5 separate regions of the Homo sapiens genome follow, and all the other regions are linked to region 5. The links come from fine-mapping of genetic effects on gene expression. A gene starts in region 5. Each other region holds a variant in brackets. All regions are shown on one strand. Distances are from middle to middle. Region 1 overlaps GINS1 (GINS complex subunit 1). Region 2 overlaps NANP (N-acetylneuraminic acid phosphatase). Region 3 overlaps PYGB (glycogen phosphorylase B). Region 4 overlaps LOC107985400 (a long non-coding RNA gene). Region 5 holds the start of PYGB (glycogen phosphorylase B).

What was found.
Region 1: its variant is fine-mapped to the expression of PYGB in B cells (Fairfax 2012, PIP 0.95).
Region 2: its variant is fine-mapped to the expression of PYGB in whole blood (INTERVAL, PIP 0.96).
Region 3: its variant is fine-mapped to the expression of PYGB in whole blood (INTERVAL, PIP 0.92).
Region 4: its variant is fine-mapped to the expression of PYGB in whole blood (TOPMed, PIP 0.94).

The regions. Positions count from the first base shown.
Region 1 is chr20:25,441,924-25,447,025 of GRCh38, reverse strand. GINS1 (GINS complex subunit 1) reads right to left here. Exons shown (of 7, transcript NM_021067.5): 7 at 1-1,103. The coding sequence ends at 1,035. Among named protein-coding and RNA genes, the nearest start is that of GINS1, 37 kb to the right of the region's middle. The variant A/GATAGATAA (reference allele first, on the strand shown) is at 3,046.
Region 2 is chr20:25,617,382-25,622,483 of GRCh38, reverse strand. The region is part of intron 1 of NANP (N-acetylneuraminic acid phosphatase); the gene reads left to right. Among named protein-coding and RNA genes, the nearest start is that of NANP, 4.1 kb to the left of the region's middle. The variant C/T (reference allele first, on the strand shown) is at 2,519.
Region 3 is chr20:25,287,370-25,292,471 of GRCh38, reverse strand. PYGB (glycogen phosphorylase B) reads right to left here. Exons shown (of 20, transcript NM_002862.4): 15 at 3,989-4,047; 16 at 1,850-1,991; 17 at 1-66. Among named protein-coding and RNA genes, the nearest start is that of PYGB, 42 kb to the right of the region's middle. The variant G/C (reference allele first, on the strand shown) is at 2,075.
Region 4 is chr20:25,700,328-25,705,429 of GRCh38, reverse strand. The region is part of intron 1 of LOC107985400 (a long non-coding RNA gene); the gene reads right to left. Among named protein-coding and RNA genes, the nearest start is that of ZNF337, 6.0 kb to the right of the region's middle. The variant C/T (reference allele first, on the strand shown) is at 2,479.
Region 5 is chr20:25,245,841-25,250,942 of GRCh38, reverse strand. It overlaps PYGB (glycogen phosphorylase B), which reads right to left and starts at 2,858. Exons shown (of 20, transcript NM_002862.4): 1 at 2,522-2,858. The coding sequence starts at 2,764. RefSeq lists silencers at 2,215-2,594, 2,905-3,094, 3,105-3,294, 3,475-3,554, 3,573-3,826 and an enhancer at 2,745-2,824.

The sequences.
Region 1 (5,102 bases), 200 kb before region 5:
AACAAAAAAAAAAACGGGTCATAGACCAAAGTATAAAGCTTAAAATTATAACACTTCTAGAAGTAAAAAGGAAAAAAAATTGTGATCTTGGGATGGGAAAAGATTTCTCGGATGCAACACCCAAAGCATAAAAGAACAAACGAATAAACTGGATTTCATCAAAATTTAAAATGTCAGCTGTTTAAAACATACCATTAAAAGACAATCAACTCTTCATGTGACTTTTCAGTCAATCTGAATCTCAGGGAAAACTGTACAAAGTTCCTTCTCTAGCCCCAATTTCACTGTCCCCTTCCAAAGTGGTGATACTGGTGATCACCCCATAGCCACAAGCCACACCAGCCACCATGGTGGAAATGTGCAAAATCCATGTGTGTCCTTCCTTCCCAAATAGCCAGATGATAAATTAGTATGTCATTAAACATTATATATACTGAAAATTTCTACAGACCATCATCTTCACTTGCATGTGATTTGAAAATGTGTATCTCAGAAATTCAGCTCTCTAGCTTGTACAATACACATGACCAGAAAACAAGACACACAGGATCTACCTTCTTCCTGTCCAGCCAAGTGACTGCTTATTTAAGAGATTCAAATGTAACCATGTTTACTTTCATTTAAAAAACACACTGTAACAACTGTAGGAATGCTGTGATTACAGATACAGCTTATTAGAAAAAGGAGTAGGGGCCGGGTGCAGTGGCTCACGCCTGTGATCTCAACACTTTGAGAAGCTAAGGTGGGAGGACTGCTTGAGGCCAGGAGTTTGAGACCAGCTTGGGCAACATAGTGAGACAGTCTCTACAAAACAAAACCAAAACCAAAAAAGAGTAGGAAGAATAGTGTACAACATTAAAAAAAGAAAGTCCTTAATAGTTAGCAAATTATACTTCTTAGCCAAGTATTCTTAGTTATCTTAAACAATGTCTATAGCTTCTAAAATCAAAGAGGGAGGTGAAGGGAGTGGTGGAGAGAGTGAGTACAGAGGAGTCCATGAGTTGAGTGAAGCCTGGAAGTGCCTCGGCGCATGGTCATGACAGGATGTGCTCCAGGACTCCTTGTCTGATCAGCTGCTCACATTTCCATCGAGGTAAAAAGTGCTGAGGGGACAAGAAGGGATGGAGAAAGAGTAAAATAAATGATTGGGAAAGAATTTGAAATTATTTCTTGTATCATTAAAAAGTAGCACTGATTAGTTTTCAAACTCCAACAAGTAAGTAGTTGAAAGTTAAACTTAAGGGGCTGGGTACGGTGGCTCATGCCTGAAATCCCAGCACTTTAGGACACCAAGGTAGGCGGATCACCTGAGGTCGGGGGTTCAAGACCAGCCTAACCAACATGGAGAAACCGCGTCTCTACTAAAAAATACAAAGTTGGCCCAGGGGCAGTGGATCACGCCTATAATCCCAGCACTTTGGGAGGCCGAGGCGGGTGGATCACGAGGTCAGGAGATCAAGACCATCCTGGCTAACACGGTGAAACCCCGTCTCTACTAAAAATGCAAAAAAATTAGCCAGGCATGGTGGCGGGCACCTGTAGTCCCAGCTACTCAGGAGGCTGAGGCAGGAGAATGGCGTGAACCCGGGAGGCAGAGCTTGCAGTGAGCCGAGACCGTGCCACTGCACTCCAGCTTGGGCAACAGAGTGAGACTCTGTCACAAAAAAAAAAAAAAAATTAGCCAGGCGTGGTGGCGCATGCCTGTAATCCCAGCTACACAGGAGGCTGAGGCAGGAGAATCACTTGAACCTGGGGGTGAGCCGAGATTGTGCCATTGCACTCCAGCCTGGGCAACAAGAGCAAAACTCCATCTCAAAAAAAAAAAGTTAAACTATATTTGCTGTTTTAATCCATTGAAATTGATTCCATTTAGAGCTGTATGGAATTCTGACTTTTACAAATGAATTCAGTTTGCTTAAGTTCAATTCAACTAAGACTTCTGAATTCTAGTAGGTATTGTACTTAGTGTTTATATTTTTAAAATTTATGCACAGAGAAATCCAGATAGGTGCGATTTGGATTATCACTGGCTCAACAGCCTATCAAGAAGACCCATGAAACGCTCATTTCTCCATAAAACCTGTTCTTGGATTTCAGAGTCTGAACATTCTTCTAATAACAAGTGACAACTTTCCTCCTGTATGTCTCAAGGTTGAAAAGTATTCATGACCCACCGCGTGGGTGCTATTCACATGGTACATGGGAAGATGCCGGTACCCAGGTATTGCTTGTCCTGTGTCTTCCTAAGAGGACATCGCTCTTGCTCTGAGGGAACCAGGGGCAGGTGGAAAGATGTCTCCTTCCCTCTCAAATACCAGGACTTACAGAAAACACTGACTGCCTTGGAGGAGGGAGGTTAAGGAAGCAAGGCAGGAAGGCTTTTCAATTCATAGGTGGTCAAAGAAATCTCAAAGGAAGATCTCAAGGAAGCAAAATGTAACCTCAGTAGCCATGTGCACCTGAAGGTCCTGCCTCACAAACTCAAAGGCCTGGCAAGAGACCCATGACCAAATTCTTCTAAACCAATCTTGAAGATACATGAGCCAAGAAAAATGTAAAAAAACACAACAAAAACAAAATAACTGAGTTGTTCATTTAATGTCCATACTAATGCTGGTATTAAACAGATGGAGAGTATTGATTTCTGGATAAAAAGTAACAGTGCTTGCCATAGTGACAAATATAAAAGAATGTATATTAGAAAATGTTTCCCAGCCAGGCGCAGTGGCTCACGCCTGTAATCCCAGCACTTTGGGAGGCCAAGGCAGGTGGATCACGAGGTCAGGAGTTTGAGACCAGCCTGATCAACATGGTGAAACCCCGCCTCTACTAAAAAAAATACAAAAATTAGCCAGGCATGGTGACACACGCCTGCAATCCCAGCTACTCGAGAGGCTGAGGCAGGAGAATTGCTTGAACCCAGAAGGCAGAGGTTGCAGTGAGCCAAGATCACGCCACTGCACTACAGCCTGGGTGACAGAGCGAGAGTCCATCTCGAAAAAAACCATAGATAGATAGATAGATAGATAGATAGATAGATAGATA[A/GATAGATAA]ATGTTTCCTACTAATATTTTAGAGTATGTGAATGATCTACACCACAGATTCTACAGAAAGTTTGGATGTGGTTGAACATTAGAAGCCCCTAATACCAACCATCAACTGTGGCTGATATTGTTTCTTTTTCATGCCTCCATTTTTATAATTGAGGGTAGGGTCACAGCTGAGAAACAGAGTTAAAAAATTCAACCACCAGGCCAGGTGCGGTGGCTCACACCTGTAATCCCAGCACTTTGGGAGGCTGAGGTGGGCGGATTACCTAAGGTCAGGAATTTGAAACCAGCCTGGCCAACATGGTGAAACGCCGCCTCTACTAAAAAATATACAAAAATTAGCCAGGCGTGGTGGCAGGCGCCTGTAATCCCAGCTATTTGAGAGGCTGAGGCAGGAGAAAAGCTTGAACATGGGAGGCAGAGGTTGCAGTGAGCCAAGATCATGCCACTGTACTCCAGCCTGGGGGACAAGAGCGAGACTTTGTCTCAAAAAAAAAAAAAAAAAAAGAAATTCAACCACAGGACAGCATTTGGGATGAAGGGACATTTCACATATCTTGCTTTATGAGGATGGCTTTTTTCTTGTTCTTGTGCCAGAGCTTCCTCCTGGGCCCTCCAGAAATATAGCTGCTTATCAGAGCATTAATTCATTATCTGCTTTAAATTCATTAGTGTCCTAAGAGAATACTTGGGACAGAAATTGTTGCCTTAACAACTGAAGACTTTAGGGAACCCTCAAAATCTTTTTTAAAAATATTCAACCTTTGTTTTAGAAGCTCCAAGGGTATTAGTAAAATAATTTTAGTCAACTATTAGTAAAATAGTTTTAAAGATCCAAGGGTATTAGTAAAATAAGAGATCAACTCACCCTGTTAGGAAAATAAGCTCAAGAACCACATGACCTGAAACATTCTTTTGCTCCCTGGCATGAACAAAGTGAACACCAAATCCTTAGGGTCAACAGATCCTAAATGGCTGACCCCAAGACAGCAGGCAAGGAAAGAAAGAGAACAGCTTTTATTAGGTCATTTTTCCTCCTCACGACTTCAGAAAATTGGGATAGGATAAAAAATTTAGTGGCCGGGCACAGTGGCTTAAGCCTGTAATCCCAGCACTTTGGGAGGCTGAGGTGGGTGGATTGCTTGAGCTCAGGAGTTCAAGACCAGCCTGGCCAACTGGTGAAACTCCGTCTCTACAAAAATTACAAAAATTAACTGGGTGTAGTGGCGTGTGCCTGTGGTCCAGCTACTTGGGGAGGCTGAGGTGGGGGATCACTTGAGCCCAGGAGGCAGAGGTTGCAATGAGTGGAGATCCCGCCACTGCACTCCAGCCTGGGGAACAGAGCAAGACTCCGTCTCAAAAAAAAAAAAAAATAATAATAATAATAGTAATAATATAGTTAACGTGAATTCATCTAATGTGAATATGAAGATTTCTAGGGAAATAATTAATATACTGAGATTACTTAAGGCATGGTGGTTCACACCTGTAATCCTCGCACTTTAGGATACTAAGGAAGGTGGATTGCTTGAGCCCAGGAGAGTTTGAGACTAGCATGGTCAACATAGCAAGGCCCCATCTCTATTTTCTTTAAAGATAGATAGATAGATAGACAGACAGACAGACAGACAGACAGACAGACAGATAGATAGATAGATGGATAAAGATTCCTTATAAGGACAAATTTAGCTTAAGTTACAACTTTACAATTTTAATCTTCCTCTATTAAATTGTTATGTTTATATACCAAATACTTGAAAATTCTTCTTTTGAAAACAGAAAAATCTGTATCACTATTTGCTTGCTAAAGAACTAGGATTTATAAGGCAAAGTGTAAGCTAAAAAAACTGCTTAGGAACTTTTAGAATAAATTATATGAACAAAGGAGCTAAATCCAACAGTTCAATAGCCTCCAGATAATAATCTATCACTTACCCAGAATAAGGCTGATTATGGTAATTCCCCTAGAAAACACCTAGTTTTAAATATAAGCAATATCCTACTAAATTAATGAATCTTTTATTATATGCAACATTTGCTTCCAGTCTTAATATTCAGAA
Region 2 (5,102 bases), 370 kb before region 5:
GACATTTGAATATGAATCACAGCTCTCCCAAAACCTAGCTGAAAGTGCCTCAAGGAATTAACCACTCGGAGCCTTATATCTTCATAAAATGTGAATTATATTAGTCCTCAATAACCCTGTAATACTTGGGAAGCCCATGGTTGCAGTGTCCACTCAGCGAACTATAGCACCTTCCACCCTCGTACGCTGTCTGTCCACCACTGCACATGCCCCGTGCATGTCTCAGTTACAGCTGAACTCATCTCTCACCTAGACTGTTGCTGTGGGCTTGTCTCCAGGTTTACCACATCCAGTGTGTCCTCCACATTCTTGCCACAGCAATATTTTTAAAACAAAGACTAAATCGTATGCCTCCCTGGTCTTTACACCCTCACTTATAGTAGTGCTGTATTTTGTTCAGATATTTCTTAATGCATCTGTCAAAGGATATTTCAATTAATTTTGCAACTCAGGTGCCTACTACTAAATAGTGAGCTTCTTGGGAGGGAACAAGCTGTCTTAATTATCCTCGTTTGACACATGGCAAATGTTGAATAAATGCTGGATGGATGGATACAAATTTTTACTTCGAGACTTGGTTCTATTACTGCCTCCTTTATAATTACAAATCATTGTAAATAATTTATGAATGGGCCGGGCGCGGTGGCTCACGCCTGTAATCCCAGTACTTTGGGAGACCGAGATGGGCAGATCACGAGGTCAGCAGATGGAGACCATCCTGGCTAACACGGTGAAACCCCGTCTCTACTAAAAATACAAAAATTAGCCGGGTGTGTTGGCGGGCGCCTGTAGTCCCAGCTACTGGGGAGGCTGAGCCAGGAGAATGGCGTGAACCCGGGAGGCGGAGCTTGCAGTGAGCCGAGATCGCGCCACTGCACTCCAGCCTGGGCGACAGAGCCAGACTCCGTCTCAAAAAATAATAATAATTTATGAATGGAGGAAGAGGGAAAGGTCCAGCCATTTATGGCCTTGGGCTTGGGGAGAAGAGGTCATATACTGACTGTATGTATCAACTTTAATTTTTTCTAATCACCTAGGGAAGTTATTTTTTTTCTCCCTCTTTAGACCTGTTTTTCATGGTAATTACTCAAGAGGAACTTTTCTACAGAAGCCTGGAGTTTCTCAGTGAACAAAGCAGAAGAGATTTCTGCATTTGTGAATTTACTTCTTAGTGGGTATGGCAGTGAACATAATAAATATTTACAGGTGTGATAGAAAAAGCAGAGAGGGTAACAAATCAACATTTTAAATAGACTGGTCAGATTTGGCCTCATCGAGTAGGTGATGTTTGTGCACAGACTTGAAATAAAAATAACAGAAGCGCTGCTTGAATTGCTAGGCTGAGTGCAGGCCTCATTTTGTGAGCGTGTTTTAAAATTGTTAATAGTTTTATTTGGAATTCATCCCCTTCTGTCGTGCTGGATCCCTATTGATTTCAGTAGGGATAGCACCATGTTCAAGAGGCTGAAGATGAGACCCGGAGCCAGCAAATGAGGAACGGTTTTTGAGGGAACTTATATACAAGACGGTCCATTGGCGGCGGGCTGGACAGAACTGCAGCCACTTGTAAAAAGAATGCAGTTTATATAGCATTTTCACTTAGCACCCTCCCTGCAGCAACCTCCTCCTGGCTACCTTCATTTAATGGAAAAAAAAAAAAGGGGGGCCTCTATCCCCTCTGCAACCTGAGTTCCGCAGGATGGGATGGGCCATGGTTCAGATCCTCCTCATAAATAAGGAATGAATCTCTGGATTGGACACTCCTGGACTCCTTATCTTGGAACCCGAATACACATTCCTCATAGACCACAGGGTCATTCTAAGGGTGTGCGTAAGTTAGTGCTGTCAGGTGCACCTGCTATACGCTTCATATCCAAATGATTAGTATTCAGAATACACTTTTCTTAAAGTGTTGTAAAGTATTAGATGGTTCCAAACTAAGCCCTCAAAAAGTCTTTTAAAATCAGTTAGCTAAACTAAAGTATTGATGATACTAACTTTAGTTCTGGGTCTAGGGAGCAGACAGAAGAATAGAGTTTCCTTTTTCGTATACGTTCAGAGAGAGCCTTAAAATAGAGTTTTGAAGTGGGTGAAGTTTGAGTTCATATTGATCTACTAACGGATAGCCCTTCTGTCAGAGCAGGGCCCCTTTCTTCAGGCCAGCGAGCACCTTGTGGGCTCTTTATACCAAAATCTTTTTCAGCCCTGCCTTACCAGTCAGACACAAAGTATCATCACGCCTCCAAGTTAGAGAGCTTTTTCCTTCACCTCCAATTCAATCAATACTCCCATTTTCAGTGCAGGTGTTAGGAGAGTTTGTAATAACGCATACTAATTCAGGGTAGGTGTTAATTTCTGTTTGAACTAATAAATGAATGCTGATAAACTTTTTTCCTAAAGATGTTAATATTGTTAAAATGCTACTTATTGTCGCATACCAACCTGTAATTAGTTGCTGTATGACAAAATGAGGAAGTTAATTGAAGGGATAGAATAGGAAGAGATTTTGAAACTTGGG[C/T]GTGGCATACCATGCCTTTATAAACATCTCCCTTTTAAGGTGAGCAAATCCTGCTTTTTCAGAGCCCCAAGAATGTGCTTAATGAAGTGCCAGTTGAAGTAACAGGAAATTGGGTCTGTACTGGGAGCCAGTAGGAAATTGGGTCTGTATAGGAGCTGATTATGAGCCAGCCCGTATCTAAGCGCAAGCTCTGTGGAGTCCTAGAGGCATGTGTCCTTGCACTGCTGTAGGGTTGCTGAAACTTTGGAGCTCCTGTCAATCATAGCTTAAGAGTCCTTCAATTGATGTTGCTAGCAAAGATGGTGAGATAAACATGGAGATTGAGAAAGCTTTATTTGTTCATAGAGATGTATAAAGCAAAAATTTACAGCGTTTTGCCTTTACCTAAAATTCCTAGGGCTGGTATATTTTTCTTGGGCAGATAAGATTTTTCTTAATGATTACATTTTCTTTTCTTTTTTCTTTAATTTTTTTTTCTCATATGGCCAAGTCTTCTGATACATTTTCTGATTAGCACAAATACCTCAAAAAATATTTTCCTTTCAGCCAGGCACGGTGGCTCACACCTGTAATTCCCAGCACTTTGGAAGGCCAAGGCAGGAGGATTGCTTGAGGCTAGGAGTTAAAGACAATCCTGGGCAATATGGCAAGACCCGTCTCTACAAAAAAAATTTATTAGCTGGGTATGGTGGTGTGCAGTTGTAGTTCTAGCTATTCGGGGGACTGAAGTGAGATGAGCCCAGGAGTTTGAGGCCACAGTGAACTATAATCATTCCTCTACTGCACTCCATCCAGCCTGAGTAACAGAGCAAGATCCTGTTTGGGGAAAAAAAAAAAAAAAAAAGACCCTTTTCCTTTGTTGTGATTCTTTTACTCTGAGGGAAGAAAAACACATGCGTTCCTCTCTCAGTAGGTGAGTTGAGTTTTTGGTGTGAGTGGCATACTGTTTATTCCCTAGTCCCATTACAACAGATATATTTTAACTGTAGCTGGGTGCATTTCAAAGAGCCAGCATTGCCTGGCATGTTTGACTTTCTTCAGGTGCTCACCTGAACACAGGATTTCCAGTGCAGACAGTTCTTGAGGCGATCCCAGGATACACGTTAAGGGGTCGGGGAGACAAGAAGGGGAAGGAGTCCAATACGGGTTAGAGCAGCTTAATGACCAGGTTACTGCTGTGAGCAGCTGGAGATTTCTGGGGGACAGTACACAGAACAGGGTTCAGTTTTGCTCCCCAAGGGGCAAGGAAGCTGTGATATTTATTCGCCAGTTTCTGCCCTACATTTGTTGAGGGCTGCTCCCAGGGCAATACTTTTTAGCCCCATCCTGTGTGTATAGATACCCTTGTGTGTGGCCAAGTAAAGCCCACAAGCAGAGAGGCCCATACTTGGAGAGGGAAGCCACTGGCGAGTGAATATAGTGTGTGCCAAGGGGATTTAGGCAGCACCTGCTATAACATGGGGTTCAAGGCCCTTCACAAACTATCTGTGAACAGGTTCCCCAGTTGCATCTCTTGGCATCTTCCCTCACATGCCTCCATTTGGGCTCAACTCAGCTTCTTGCTTTTTCCACAAAATTTTAAACTCTTGGCCTTTGTTCATGCTGTTCCTCTGTCTGGAATGATTTTCTTCTCTTCCCAAACCCGCTTTTTCTGCTTGTTTACTCCTTGGTCTCAATGTGACTTCCTCTGCCAGCTACCCTGTGGAATGACTTCCATATTATTCCCACAGCTTGTTCAAACTACTGTCATGGCATTTCCCCCACCCCCGGCCCATGATTTGTAGTGGTTGTATATTATATTCCCCACCAGATAATGCCTCAACGACAAAGGCCAGTCTCTAGTGCTTAACACATAGTGCAAAGGCAAGCATGTGGGCTTTGGAAGTAAGCAGGTATGGATGCAGATCCCAGATGGGCGAGTTATTAACAGTTCTGCACTTCCCTGCCTAATTTGGAACATGGAACTGTCTTGCAGGATTGTAGAAAAGTTTAGAAATAATGTATGTAAGTATGTAGTACAATGCTTGCCACATTAGGGGTTTTAGGAAAAGTTACAAGACAGGCCAAATGGATTAGTGTTATAAAAGCCACATAAAGAGCCTTGGGAACGCAGGAAGAGGGAGTATTTAACTCAAAAGTACAGAATTGGGGCCGGGCGCAGTGGCTCATGCCTATAATCCCAGCACTTTGGCAGGCAGAGGCAGGAAGATCACTTGGGGTCAAGAGTTCGAGGCTAGCCTGGCCAACATGGTAAAACCCCGCCTCTACTAAAAATACAAAAATTAGCCAGGCATGGTGGCGGGCACCTATAGTCTCACCTACGCGGGAGGCTGAAGCAGGAGAATCACTTGAACCCAGGAGGCAGAGGTTGCAGTAAGCTGAGATTGCACCACTGCACTCCAGCCTGGGCAACAGAGCGAGACTCTGTATCCAGAAACAAAAAAGTACAGAATTGGGCCAGGCACAGTGGTTCACGCCTGTAATCCTAGTAATTTGGAGGCCGAGGCAGGCAGATCACTTGAGGTCAGGAGTTCGAGACCAGCCTGGCCAACATTGTGAAACCCTGTCTCTGCTAAAAATACAA
Region 3 (5,102 bases), 42 kb before region 5:
TGCCTGTGCCTGAGGCCTCGGTGCCTGCAGTGGAGATCTGCTGCGACAGATCAGCGGCCGGGATCACTGTGGAGGGGAGCCCGTGGAGGGGATCACTGTGAGGACCCCAATGTCCTCAGCCGCAAGGCTCACTGCAGGACAAGCCGGCCCATCCACCCGGGGCTGGGTCGTGGAGGGACCAATGCTGTGGCCCCGCTCCAGCCCCCACTCCCGCTCCCACAGGGGCCCAGGCTGGACACGGCCACCCGCCTCTGCAGGGCTCCCCTTCGTGACTGGGGCATCCTTGAGGCAGAAGGTCCAAGATGGGGGCTCCTCAGGAGCCAGGTGGCATAGGATCTGTGCACCAAAACCTTCCCCAAAACCAGGCCTAGCCAAGGAGCCAGTCCTGGCTCGCTGACAATGTCGTTCCCTGGATCACCGCGACCTTGATCAGCCCCAGCGGCTCCCTGGATCCTTTCAGGAGGAATGTAGACCAGAATAGAGCCAGAAGGCTGGAGCGGCTGAGGGGTGGCGACCTCCTGGGCGCCAGCAGCTGCCAGATGCCACGGCCCTGCGCTTTCTCTGTGCCTGTCCCTCAGGACTGGTCACCGCTCCCAGACACGCTGTGAGTGCACACACTGACTATACAACCTGCTCTCCACCCTCACCTCAGGCTGCAGCCCAGTCAGCCACAGCAACACTGCCGGGGAGAACGGGGCCCTGACGCCAGCACCGAGACTCCAGACCAGGTGCCTGAAGGCCTGCTCTAAAGATGAGCAGGAGTCAGCTGGCCCCAAAACACATAGGAGGAGGGGAGCCTCAGGCAGCACGGGGGAGAGGAGATGCTTCGGTCAGAGGAGCAGGGAAGGACGAGCCACAGTTCCTGGCCAAGCCGGAGGCAAGCCGGCCCGTGAGTGCCTCAAGGGACCTCGCCTGCCAGGCACCACTAAAGAGGGGGAGCGACATGGACACCAAGGCAGCAGCCAGGCCACAGGGACGGTGCCCAGGGATCCCCCCCTGCACCACGGAGCTTGCAGAACAACAGCAGATCAGCCCTCTCACCTGCGGCAGCCTGGGAAGCCCAGGCGGCCTGAACTAGGGGGGGCCCTTGGCCCTCGGCGGCAGGAGGGGAGCACGAGAAGGCCAGGCTCAGATCTCCCACCATCTGGTGGGCAAATCACTTTCCTGCCCAGTAGAGCCCACAGGGGTGGGAACTGATGGGCTCCAGGGCACATGGCAGCACATCCCAGGGTCTCCCCAGGACTGGCCCAGGCTGCCCTCAGGAAGCACAGATGAGGCAGGTGCTGCCACCTGAGATCACTGGTGGGCCCAAGAGCAGGCAGGCAGTGAGGAGCAAGGATGTGGGCGGAGGAGGGGCAGTGGAGTTGGGGGAAGCTGGGGGCCCACAACCCCACTGGCCTGGTGCATGTCCTGCCAGCAGAGGGGCCCAGGGCAGAAGACACGGCTGAGGGGCAGGAGGAGAGGGCAGGGGAGGGAGGGTACAGAGGGCAGGCCAGGCAGGTCCTGCCAGCAGAGGGGCCCAGGGCAGAAGGCACGGCTGAGGGGCAGGAGGAGAGGGCAGGGGAGGGAGGATACAGAGGGCAGGCCAGGCAGGCGCGGCAGTAAGGGTGCCCTGTTGGGGGATGACACTGCCTGTGACATGCAAGGCGCCCCGGGACGCACTGTGAGTCCTCCGCACTGCACGGGGAGCACTCCCTAAAGCCGTTCCCTGCTCGCCTGCAGCCCGGCTGGCTAGGTCTGGGTGTCCAGGCAGAGCTGAACTGGCTGAGGATGAAAGGCCCGGGGCCAGTACAACGCCCGTTCCCCGGCAGGAGTGAGTTTTCTGTCCAACACAGGCTTCCAGGGTTACCTTTCTCAGCCAAGGACACACGGTAGTTCTCCAGGAAGATCACTTTCAACCTGTCACCCACAACTGGGTCATGATTGACGACGTCGCCGATGGAGGTGACCAACTTGATGATCAGCTTGGCCATGTGGTAACCGGGCGCTGCCTGGAAGGAGAGGGTGAAGGTTTTTAGCACAAAAATGCCTTGTTCAGGCCCTTGGAGGCGCTCCTGGTTCCTGGGGTCTGTAG[G/C]GGGGTGAGGCTAGAGCCACAGGAACCTGCCGTCGGGACGGTCAGTAGAGGAGCTAGGGAGGCTCCCCGGCCCCAAGGCCCCAGCTCTGCTGCGCACTCACGATGGTGGCCACCTCGCCACATCCAGAAACGTGTCCGCCTCAAGTCTGGTTTTCTGGTTGTTGTTAGGTTTTCAGAAATTACAAGGTAAAAGAGACCAGGATTTCTAGAGCTGCCGACTGACAGGAAACAGAGAACTGTCCCTAGGGACATACTGGGACACACTGGAGGGACACATTCGGAAAGAGCCAGGCTACGGCGGACAGACAACCCGATGTCTGTAACAGACAGACTGTGGGGAAAACCTACAGAGAACTGAGACACCACGGCCAGTCCAAGGTGAGGACTCACTGGGCCCTCACTCAGACCAACTTTTAGAAATGTCTGTTACTTTACAAAGACAACTGGGCAGGGGACCCATGAAGTACCCGAGTGAACATTTCAGGACACGGAGGACTCCTGTCCAATGCTTTAGGTGTGACGGATGGTGGTACTGTGTGGTGATGTTTCAGTCTACTCCCATTGTGGTTCTGGTGGAAAACATCATTTTATGAAAAGGAATGCTGACGTATGTAAGAGTGAAGAGCTAGAGTGTCTGCAGTTTACTGTGAAATGCTTCAGCTAGTCTGGGTGACAGGTTTATGGTTTTGCTACAATTCTTCCTGCTTTTCTCCAGGTTCAAATGTTTCCTTCTTTTTTTTTTCTTTTTTTTGCTGAGACAGGGTCTGGCTCTGCTGCCCACACTGGAGTGCAGTAGTGCAATCACAGCTCACTATAGCCTCAATCACCCAGGACAATCGATCCTCCTACTCAGCCTCCCAAGTAACTGGGACTACAGACATGAACCACCACGCCCAGCTAATTTTTGCACTTTTTTGTAGAGATGGGGTTTCACCACACTGCTCAGGCTGGTCTCGAACTCCTGGGCTCATGCGATCCACCCGCCTTGGCTCCCAAAGTGCTGGGATTACAGACGTGAGACACCGTGCCCAGCCTAAAATTTTCATAATAACATTTAAAACTTTTTCGAACTCCGTATCTCTATGGACTTTACATACTGAAATACTGACAAATAAAATGACACAATTCCAAAATTTGCTTCAAAAACAGCAGGTGACAGGAGTGGACAGAGACCAAATGGGGTGTGCCAGGAGGTGGCGGAGCCCAGAGGAGTGCCCACCCCTCTGACCAGCTTCCCACTCGCTGAAGGCAGCAAGAGGGCAGCCTTCAGGCTGCACACAGGCACCAGCACCCCCAGGCCCCGGCCTTGCCGTGGAGGGCTGGGGTGCCTCACACAGTCCAGACTCACTTAGGGCCACTGCTCCAGCAGGACCCTCCTAAGGACGCTGCACCCCACAGCAGCCTCACAGTTCTGGATAAAGACCAAGCTACTAGGGAAACATGGCAGGAGGTGGGGACACTGGCCGCAGAGGGCTGATGAGTGTGACGATGTGACCTGGGACTCGATGACAGCACATCTAGGACTCTGAAAGTATGTGTCATAGTAAATAAAGTGAACTGAAACCAGGCAATGCTCAGGGCATGTGCAGGTGATGAAGCAGCCACAACGCCCTGTGCCCACTGGGCACAAAGAGAAAGGACACTGCCCTCTCTGAGGTGGGCACCAGCAAGCCCACTGGGGACTGGCCCTCTAGGCTGGGGACCCCTCCAGTGAGCTGGGCAGGCAGGAGGCTTCCATCCCATTCTGACTCTCTACAGGGTCCCCACCCCCACAGGCATACCAGAGGGGCCGGTGACCGCTGGGCATCCGGTTCCCGAGTATGGATGTGGTGGCACCATGAGAAGCGTGCAGGCTGCCCACCCACTATCCCCAGACCAAACACCACAGAGAGGACTGCAGAGGAAGTCACTCACCTTGCCCCCAATCATAACAGTCCTGGGCACAAAAGCCTTGGCCGGGTCTCTCTTGATTCCTGCAGGACACACGGAAGAGACTCACACAAGGCACCGCGAGCCGGACGAGCCCCTGCTGGGGCCCAGCAGCATCAGAGGCCGACCCTGAGGCAGGACAGGCACGCTCCGCCATGTACTTCAAGCCCCAGAGACACGGGTGACAGTGGCACAGGGCCACTGGCCACCCACCTGCCCACCCACCAGGAACCTGCCACTTACAAGGGAGTGAGGCCACCCTGAGGTCTGCACTTAGGTTCCCCGCTGGTGAGGAAGGCCAGCCAGGACCATGGACGAACCCAGCAGCTGACTCGAGCAAAGATGCTATTCCCCGGGGCTCAGAGGAAAAGCTGCACCTCAGTTTCCAGAAAAGCCCAACACAGGAGCCTCCTTGGGTCTGGTCACCAGTGTTCAAGGCCCCTGTACATGAAGGGCACACTTGTGGGTTTTGTTTGGTTTTGTTTCTTGAGACAGCAGCTCACTCTGTCGCCCAGGCTGGAGTGCGGTGGTGTAAGCGTAGCTCACTGCAGCCTCTACCTTCCAGGTTCAAGCAATCCTCCCACCTCAGCCTCCTGAGTAGCTGGGATCCTAGGCACGTGCCACTGCGCCCAGCTAATTTTTTAATTTTTTGTAGAGATGAGGGTTTCTCTACATTGCCCAGGCTGGTTTCAAACTCCCACGCTCAAGCAACCCTTCCGCCTCAGCCTCCCAAAGTGCAGGGATTATAGGCGTGAGCTACCGCGCCTCGCACTCTACCACTCTTGGGTTTTTTTTGTTGTTGTTTGTTTTTGTTTTTAAGAGTTAAGGTTTAGCTCTGCCACCCAGGCTGGAGTACTGTGGTGTAATCCGGGTTCACAGCAGCCACAGACTCCTGGACTCAAGTGATCTTCCCCTCCTTAGCCTCCCAAGTAGATGCGACTACAGGCACCGACAGGTTACCACATGCAGCTAATTTTTTCACTTTTAGTACAGATGGGGTTTCACTTTTTTGCCCAGACCAGTCTCAAACTCCTGGCATCAAACAGTCATCAGGCCTCAGCCTCCCAAATCACTGGGATTACAGGGGTGAGCCACCACA
Region 4 (5,102 bases), 450 kb before region 5:
AGACAAGATTAGAGCAAAAAAAGAGTTAAAAGAAATGAATAAAGCCTCAAAGAAATATGGGACTATGTGAAAAGACCAAACAAATCTACATTTGATTGGTGTGCCTGAAAGTGATGGGGAAAATGGAATCAAGTAGGAAAATACTCTTCAGGATATTATCCAGGAGAACTTTCCCCAACCTAACAAGGCAGGCCAACACTCAAATTCAGGAAATATAGACAAACCACAAAGATACTCCTCGAGAAGAACAATCCCAAGACACAAAATCTTCAGATTCACCAAGGTTGAAATGAAGGAAAAAATGTTAAGGGCAGCCAGAGAGAAAGGTCGGGTTACCCACAAAGGGAAGCCCATCAGACTAAAAACAGATCTTCCAGCAGAAACCCTACAAGCCAGAATAGAGTGTGGGCCAATATTTAACATTCTTATAGAAAAGAATTTTCTACCCAGAATTTCATATTGAGCCAAACTAAGCTTCATAAGCAAAGGAGAGCGAAGGAGAAATAAAATCCTTTACAGACAAGCAAATGCTGAGAGATTTTGTCACCACCAGGCCTGCCTTACAAGAGCTCCTGAAGGAAGCACTAAAATGGAAAGGAACAACCAGTACCAGCCACTGCAAAAACATACCATATTGTAAAGACTTTCCATGCTAGGAAGAAACTGCATCAACTAACTGACAAAATAACAGCTAGCATCATAATGACAGGATCAAATTCACACAAAACAATATTATCCTTAAATATAAATGGACTAAATGCCCCCAATTAAAAGACACAGACTGGCAAACTGAATAGTCAAGACCCATCAGTGTGCTGTATTCAGGAGACGCATCTCATGTGCAAAGACTCACATATGCTCAAAATAAAGGGATGGAGGAATATTTACCAAGCAAATGGAAAGGAAAAAAAAAGCAGGGGTTGCAATCCTAGTCTCTGACAAAACAGAGTTTAAACCAACAAAGATCAAAAGAGACAAGGCCATTACGTAATGGTAAAGGGATCAATGCATCAAGAAGAGCTAACTATCCTAAATATATATGCACCCAATACAAGGAGCACCTAGATTCATAAAGCAAGTTCTTAGAGACCTACAAAGAAACTTAGACTCCCACACAATAATACTGGGAGACTTTAACACACCACCATCAATATTAGACAGATCAACAAGACAGAAAATTAACAAGGATATCCAGGACTTGAACTCAGCCCTGGACCAAGTAGAACTAATAGACATCTACAGAACTCTCCACCCCAAATCGGCAGAATATACATTCTTCTCAGCACCACGTCGCACGTACTCTAAGATTGACCACATAATTGGAAGTAAAACACTACTCAGCAAATGCAAAAGAATGGAAATCACAACAAACTGTCTCTCAGATCACAGTGCAATCAAATTAGAACTCAGGAATAAGAAACTCCCTCAAAACTACACAACTACATGGAAACTGAACAACTGGCTCCTGAATGACTACTGGGTAAATAACGAAATTAAGGCAGGAATAAAGATGTTCTTTGAAACCAATAAGAACAAAGACACAACGTACCAGAAGCCCTGGGACACATTTAAAGCAGGGTATACAGGGAAATTTATAGCACTGAATGCCCACGAGAGAAAGCAAGAAAGATCTAAAATTGACACCCTAGCATCACAACTAAAAGAACTAGAACAGCAAGAGCAAACAAATTCAAAAGCTAGCAGAAGGCAAAAAATAACTAAGATCAGAGCAGAACGGAAGGAAATAGAAACACAAAAAAAACCTTCCAAAAAATCAATGAATCCAGGACCTGGCTTTTTGAAAAGTTCAAGAAGATAGACCGCTAGCCAGACTAATAAAGAAGAAAAGAGAGAAGAATCAAATAGATGCAATAAAAAATGATAAAGAGGATATCACTACTGATCCCACAGAAATACAAACTATCATCAGAGAATACTATAAACACCTCTATGCAAATAAACTAGAAAATCTAGAAAAAATGGATAAATTCCTGGACATATACACTCTCCCAAGACTAAACCAGGAAGAAGTCAAATCCCTGAATAAACCAATAACAACTTCTGAAATTGAGGCAGTAACTAATAGCCTACAAACCTAAAAAAGTCCAGGACCAGATGGATTCACACCCAAATTCTATGAGAGGTACAAAGAGGACCTGGTACCATTCCTTCTGAAACTATTGCAAACAATAGAAAAAGAGGGAATCCTCCCTAACTCATTTTATGAGGCCAGCATCATCCTCACACCAAAACCTGGCAGAGGCACAACAAAAAAAGAAAATTTCAGGCCAATATCCCTGATTAACATCAGTGTGAAAATCCCCAATAAAATACGGGCAAACCAAATCCAGCAGGACATTAAAAAACTTATCCACCACGATCAAGTCAGCTTCATCCCTGGCATACAAGGCTGGTTCAACATATGCAAATCAATAAACGTAATCCATCACATAAACAGAACCAATGACAAAAACCACA[C/T]GATTATCTCAATAGATGCAGAAAAGACTTTCAACAAAATTCAACAGTCCTTCATGCTAAAAACTCTCAGTAAACTAGGTATTGACTGAATGTATCTCAAAATAATAAGAACTATTTATCACAAACCCACAGCCAATATCATACTGAATGGGCAAAAGCTGGAAGCCTTCCCTTTGAAAACTGGCACAAGACAAGGATGCCCTCTCTTACCACTCCTATTAAACACAGTATTTGAATTTCTGGCCAGGGCAATCAGGCAGGAGAAAGAAATAAAGGGTATTCAGTTAGGAAAAAAGGAAGTAAAATTGTCTCTGTTTGCAGATGACATGATTGCATATTTAGAAAACCCCATCATCTCAGCCCAAAATCTCCTTAAGCTGATAAGCAACTTCAGCAAAGTCTCAAGATACAAAATCAGTGTGCAAAAATCACAAGCATTCCTTTACGCCAGTAACAGATAGCCAAATCATGAGTGAACTACCATTCTCAGTTGCTACAAAGAGAATTAAATACCTAGGAATACAACTTACAAGGGATGTAAAGGACCTCTTAAAGGAGAACTACAAACCACTGCTCAAGGAAATAAGAGAGGACAAAAGCAAACAGAAAAACATTCCATGCTTATGGATAGGAAGGATCAGTATCATGAAAATGGCCACACTGCCCAAAGTAATTTATAGATTCAATGCTATCCACATCAAGCTACCACTGATTTCTTCACAGAATTGGAAAAAAACTACTTTAAATTTCATATGGAACCAAAAAAGAGCCCGTATAGCCAAGACAATCCTAAGAAAAAAGGACAAAGGCATCACCCTATCTGACTTCAAAGTATACTACAATGCTGCGGTAACAAAAACAGCATGGTACTGATACCAAAACAGAGAGATAGACCAATGGAACAGAACAGAGGCCTCAGAAATAACACCACACATCTACAACCATCTGATCTTTGATAATCCTGACAAAAACAAGCAATGTAGAAAGAATTCCATATTTAATAAATGGTGTTGGGAAAACTGGCTATCCATATGCAGAAAGCTAAAACTGAATCCCTTCCTTACACCTTATACAAAAATTAACTCAGGTTGAATTAAAGACTTAAACGTAAGACATAAAACCATAAAAACCCTAGAAGGAAACCTAGGTAATACCATTCGGGACATAGGCATGGGCAAAGACTTCATGACTAAAACACCAAAAGCAATGGCAACAAAAGCCAAAATTGACAAATAGGATCTAATTAAACTAAAGAGCTTCTGCACAGCAAAATAAACTATCATTAGAGTGAACAGGCAACCTACAGAATGGGAGAAAATTTTTGCAATCTATCCATATGACAAAGGGCTAATATGCAGAATCTACAAAGAAGGTAAACAAATTTACAAAAAATAAAAATAAAAAAAATTGGGTGAAGGATATGAACAGAAACTTCTCAAAAGAAGACATTTATGCAGCCAACAGACACATGAAAAAATGCTCATCATCACTGGTTATTAGAGAAATGAAAATCAAAACCACAATGAGATACCATCTCATGCCATTTAGAATGGTGATCATTAAAAAGTCAGGAAACAACAGATACTGGAGAGGACGTGGAGAAATAGGAACACTTTTACACTGATGGTGGGAGTGTAAATTAGTTCAACCATTGTGGAAGACATTGTGGCAATTCCTCAAGGATCTAGAACTAGAAATACCATTTGATCCAGCAATCCCATTACTGGGTATATACCCAAAGGATTATAAATCATTCTACTATAAAGACACATGCACTTGTATGTTTACTGCAGCAATGTTCACAATAGCAAAGACTTGGAACCAAACCAAATGCCCATCAATGTTAGACTGGATAAAGAAAATGTGGCATATATATACCATGGAATACTATGCAGCAATAAAAAAGGATGAGCTCATGTCCTTTGCAGGGACATGGATGAAGCTGGAAACCATCATTCTCAGCAAACTAACACAAGGACAGAAAACCAAACACCACATGTTCTCACTCATAAGTGGGAGTTGAGCAATGAGAACACATGGACACAGGGAGAGGAACATCACACACTGGGGCCTGTCGGACCGTGGGGGTCTGGGGGAGAGATAGCATTAGGAGAAATACCTAATGTAGATGCTGGGTTTATGGCTGCAGCAAACCAGCATGGCATGTGTATACTTATGTAACAAACCTGAACGTTCTGCACATGTACCCCAGAACTTAAAGTATAATTTTAAAAAAGGTAAAATTCACAAACCTTTAGCCAGACTAAGAAAAAACAGAAGACCAAAACAAATAAAATCAGAAATGAAAAAGGAGACATTACAATTGATACCATAGAAATTTAAAGGATCATTAGAAATGATTATGAGCTACTATATGCTATTAATTTGGAAAATCTAGGAGAAACTGATACATTCCTAGATACATAAAACCTAAGATTGAACCATGAAAATATCCAAAACATGAGTAGACTAATAACAAATGAGATAGAAGCAGTATTAAAAAGTATCCCATCAAAGAAAAGCCCAGGACCTGACGGTTTCATTGCTGAATTCTACCAAACATTTTATAAAGAACTAGTATCAATCTATGCAAACTATTTAAAAAAAAGAAAGAAAGAAGGATC
Region 5 (5,102 bases):
GAACACAAAATATTTACAGCACAAAGTGGGCGATAGAAGTGGGTTACAGGATTACAGTTAATTTTTTTCCTTCTGGCTTATCTATATTTTCTAATTTTTCCTCCAGTAATAATTTTTCCTTCAGGACTTGCATAATTTAAAAAAAGACAAAAATAACAATAAAAGCGTTCTATTTAGGAGCTCTAGAGTGTCACATTACCACAGTCTGCAGTGTGCCGGTGAATGTCTGAGGTCATTTCTGGCTGAGGGGGAGGCACAGCAGTTATTTTCTTGGGAGCACACCTCCTCTCATTGGCTCTGGTGGGACTGGTTGCTGGTCCATCACCAGCAAGCATGTAACTTTTCCAAAGAAAGGATTGCAAGCTTATTTTCATCATGAATTAGCGAAAGAAGCAGTTAAATCCCAATTTTCCATGTCCTTCCTATTCAGAATAGGCACACAGCTTATTTACACACTGTGAGATCTAAAAGTTTACAACTTTACGACTTACAGACTGTGCGGTTTAAGAGAAAGGTTTCCACCCAGAGCCACCACACGTAGACAATCAAAAGAGATCTCACGGAGGATCAAAAAACCTGTTTTGTTGCAGGGACTATCTTGTTCATGAAGGTCATTTCCGTAATCCCTGAGCCCATCGCTGGCCTCTCCAGGATGTGATTATACATAAATACTCCAATGGGCACCCTAAGGTGTAGAGCTGAGTCCTGGTCCAGCTCCAAGGAAATGCCCTTGAATGTGAAGGCAGAGCTATGTCCTTGCCATCCGCCACTTAGACAATAAAAATGATGTTGCGGGTCGGGTGCGTTGGCTCACGCCTGTAACTCCTGCACTTTGGGAGGCCGAGGCGGGCGGATCACGAGGTCAGGAGTTTGAGACCAGCCTGGCCAACATGGTGAAACCCCGTCTCTACTAAAGATACAAAAAATTAGCCGGGCGTGGTGGTAGGCGCCTGTAATCCCAGCTACTTGGGAGGCTAAGGCAGGAGAATTGCTTGAACCCGGGAGGCGGAGGTTGCACTGAGCCGAGATCGCGCCACTGCACTCTAGCTTCACGCTACAGGGCAAGACTCAGAATTAAAAAAAAAAAAAAAATGGTGCTGTGCATCAGAACTCTCCCAACAGCAGGGAATTCTGGGGGAGCCACTGCTTCTTGGCTGCTTTTCCTGGCAAAGTCATCCCAAGCCCTTGTTATAACCTGTTTTGGCCATTCGTTGCCACTTCTATGTTTTGCATACCAAATATGAAGAGCCCCAGTTGGTATTCTAACAAATCTGTCCCTTTTACCATCTCCATTTTAGAAAAAAGAATGTCCCAGAATAAGTTTGGAAAAGCAGTCAATCTCTTAGCAATTACCGTATTAAACATATCTTAATGCCCTACAAAAATATTCTAAAATACCATCCATAAAGCAAGTGCTCACTGCCTAGATGTACACTGCAAGTAAAATCTTTGCCAAGTGGCTTCAGGTCTGGAAGTGTGTCTTTTCCTCACCAGTTCTCCCTCTACGTTAGTGTAGTAGAAAGACAATTCTCCATGGTCAAGAGTTTAAAAGCAAACGACAACAACAAAAAACTGGCAACAGGGGGCTGTGCAAGACTACCATGTACCTATCAAACTGAAAACTACCATCCTATCCATTGACCTGCAAAGCTGTTTATCAGTGAAAAAGTTACAAATGTTTACGAATGAAACAGAAAATCTAAAAAACTGTATGTGCATTATACTTTTTAAAAATGTGTATGTATATTTAGGAATACCAAAAACACAGCAAGAACACAGGCCCATAGTAAACATGGTTAAGAGTAACGGGGACAATCAGTGACTTTGTTTCACTACTCAAACAAATTTTTGCAAGATATAAAAAGTAACAATTAGTAAGATGATCTCTGTCAACTTCAACCCAAGCAAATTTCTCCAAGGGAGGTGTGGGAACCTCTAAGACAGAGCCTTCTTCGAGGGCTCCATCTCCATCTCTGAGCTTCGTACCCCTCCCTGCGTGAAGCAGGCATCTTCAGTGATTTTCTTCTAAGCAGCGTACACAAAAAAAAGTCTCACAATTCCCTGCAGATTACCGAGCTCACCCCATTCCAACCCACAAGGCTGCCCAGGCCTGGTTCCAGTCCCATTTTCTCCCACAGGCTGCTGCAGGAAAACAAAGAGTGGCTGGAGGCAGGGGCGGGGAGCACCGGCTCTGCAGCCAGCGCGGAAGCGCACGGCCAGAAAGAGACCGGGAACGTCCGCCAGGCTCCCGGGCTCAGCATCATCTGCGGGGGACGGCGGACCCCGCCAGGCGCGGGCTCCCAGTGGGGCGGACCCGTGGCCGCGGCCCTGCGCAGGGGACGCCCGGGCCCCGCCGACTGCGGCTTCCAGGCGACTCCCCAGTCGGCTGTGCCTGGCCGCCGGCCGGCTAGGGGCGCAGGTAACGCCCGACGGGCCGCCCCGCAGAGACCCCCGCTGGCGCGGCTCCGGGACCGGCGCCCTCTCAGCGGGCACGGGCGCACAGGGCGGGGCAGCGCCTCACCTTGGGGTCGCGCTCGTAGTAGTGCTGCTGCGTGCGGATCCAGCGGCCCACGAGGTGGTCGCGCACCGTGTGCGCCAGCGCGAAGAAGTAGTCGCGGGGCGTGGCCACATTGCGGTCCTTGACCAGCGTGAAGTGCAAGTGCCGGTTGAAGCTCTTCCGCACCTCGGCCACGTCGCCTAGCCCCGCCAGGCCGCGCACGCTGATCTGCTTCCGCTTCTCGCTGTCCGTCAGCGGCTTCGCCATCGCGCCGGCGGAGGCGGAGGAAAAGAGATGGAGGAGGAAAGCGGCGGCACACGCGAACGCCGGGATGGTGCAGCTGCTCTGGCGCCGCTGCTCTGGCGCCCGGCACTGCGGCTCTGCGGGCGGGATGGACCGCGCCTGCGCGCCGCGCCGGGGCGGGGCCTCGGGGGGCGGGGCGGGGCCTCGGGAGGGCGGGGCGGGCGTCCAGGCTCATAGCTGAGATCTCTGGTGTAGTCCGAGGCGGCAGCGACCTGTCCACGCCACCTGAGCGTGGTGTTTGCCCCCTCGTTGGGCAAGCCCGGCAGAAAGTGGGAGCGACTGGAGGGGGCAAGGGACCCGGGGCCTCGGAGCGTGCCGTCGTGGCCGCTCCTGCCAGCCCGGGGACGGTGCGGGAAGGGGGCCCTGCCCTCCGGCCCTCGGGTTCCTGGGACCGGCCCTCCCGCCCTGCACCGGGTCACCAGGTGCCCCGCGGGAGCGCGCTGGGCTCGGGCTGTGGCCGAGACCTGGTACACGTTCGGGGAAACTGATTACAGCTTGAAAGGCATCCACCAACGCCTGCTGGGCCCGGTCTTCTCTGTCCGGGGCAGGGCGGCTCTGAAAATACCAGCTATTTGCTTGCCACTCCAGGCCGATGACAGACGTGGAGAAAACCAGCTGCCAGCGAGCTGGAGACGCCCGTTCCCGAGGGCGCGAGGCAGCCACAGCCAAATGCCACCACGACCCCGCCTCGGAGGGACCGCAGCCCCCTAGCCCTCGGAGAAACCCTGTTCCCGAAACCACCTGGCAGACGCTGTCCGCTTTGAGATTACAGCAGGGAGAAGGAAACATGCCCGTCTGGCCGGGGAGCTCAGCCACTAACCGAGACTTAGCCTCTGTCATCCCAATCCAGGCTGCAGCTCCAGATAGGGGGCGTCTGCACACAGCTTCCCACACTTGGCCCCGCGGAACACAGTCCTGCTGGCCTCAGCCTGTGGGAACCCTGCTTCATGTAAAGGTCACCTAAACTCTGCCTTCCCTCAACCCCTTCAAACTCTGCCTTTCCCTTCGTTCTTGGGAGGCGCTCCCTCATTGCAGTGGGTCAGTACACCCGATTTTGTGGACCACAGGTTTGCTCCTGGTGGTCTTGGGCTGAAGGGGCTGCAAAGGTTACTGAATTTCGTGGAGGTAAAAATTGCCCGCAGGAAATGTCATGAAAGTCCAGGTGCAGTAGGTTTCCTGGTGTGATGCTTCAAAGTTATCTTCTTACCTGGAGCCCCTTCCAGCTGCAGACTTCAGAGGTCGGAGGTTAATCAATCTGGAATGACCCCACAGCCCACCCAGCTCCAGCTCGGGATTCACTCCTGCACTATGTCCTAGGGATTCTGGAGCCAACAAGATCGAACTTCGGGCACAGATGGCAGGGCTGTGGGGTCGAGCTTGGCTGCAAGCTCCGAACACTGATGCAATCTCTCTGAGGGTGATCTGGCAATTCAGAAGTCATAAAAATGATAGTGCCCTATGACCACTTCTACCACTCTGGGGAATTGAGTTCAAGGAAAGCTTAAGAAGACAAAAAGCAAGTTATGCAAATATGTTATCTGCTGTGGTGTGGTAAAGTTTAATCCCCCAGCTGTGGTGCACACCTGGCAAAGAATGGAGGCGCTGACACTTATTGATCATTACTTGCAGTGTACACGTATTAACTCCTGATCCCTGCAAATAGCCTGCTATTACCCCCGCTTGACAATGGAGAAGGTGAGCCACAGAGAAGTTAACTCTTCCCTAAGCCCACACAGCTAATAAGGGAAACAGCCAAGGTTCACCCCAGCCAAGCCCTGCTCCACTGCACAAGCCCAGAAAAATGTATCTGTGCTCAAAGTTAATATCATAAACCATTGTGCTGCTAAAAGGAATGACTGTTTTAATAGCTAGCTAGGAAGGTGTGATTGATGACACAATACTGATAAATGAAACACAAAAATAAGGATGTAATGCAGAAATGACAGTAATGATTTGAATATTACTTTCATTTAGTCAATTTAAATTTAAATTAAATAACCACATGTGGCTAGGGACTACTGTGTTAGAAACACAGGTGTATATCCAAACCTAAACACTGGTTATTTCTGAATGGAAGAATTATCAGGGGGGTTATCTTATTTTCTCCATACATTTTGTATTTCCTGTTTTTTCCACAATATTTCTTTTGTAAGTGGAGTAAGTTTTAGTAAGAAAAACTAGAGGCCACAGACTTCACTAATGGATGCTGATTTAAGGCCTATATATTCTCTTACTGGATTGACTTTTAATTCTTTGTTACTCTGGTTAAATAAATTTTAAGTCCTTTCTTTCATAGCTACAC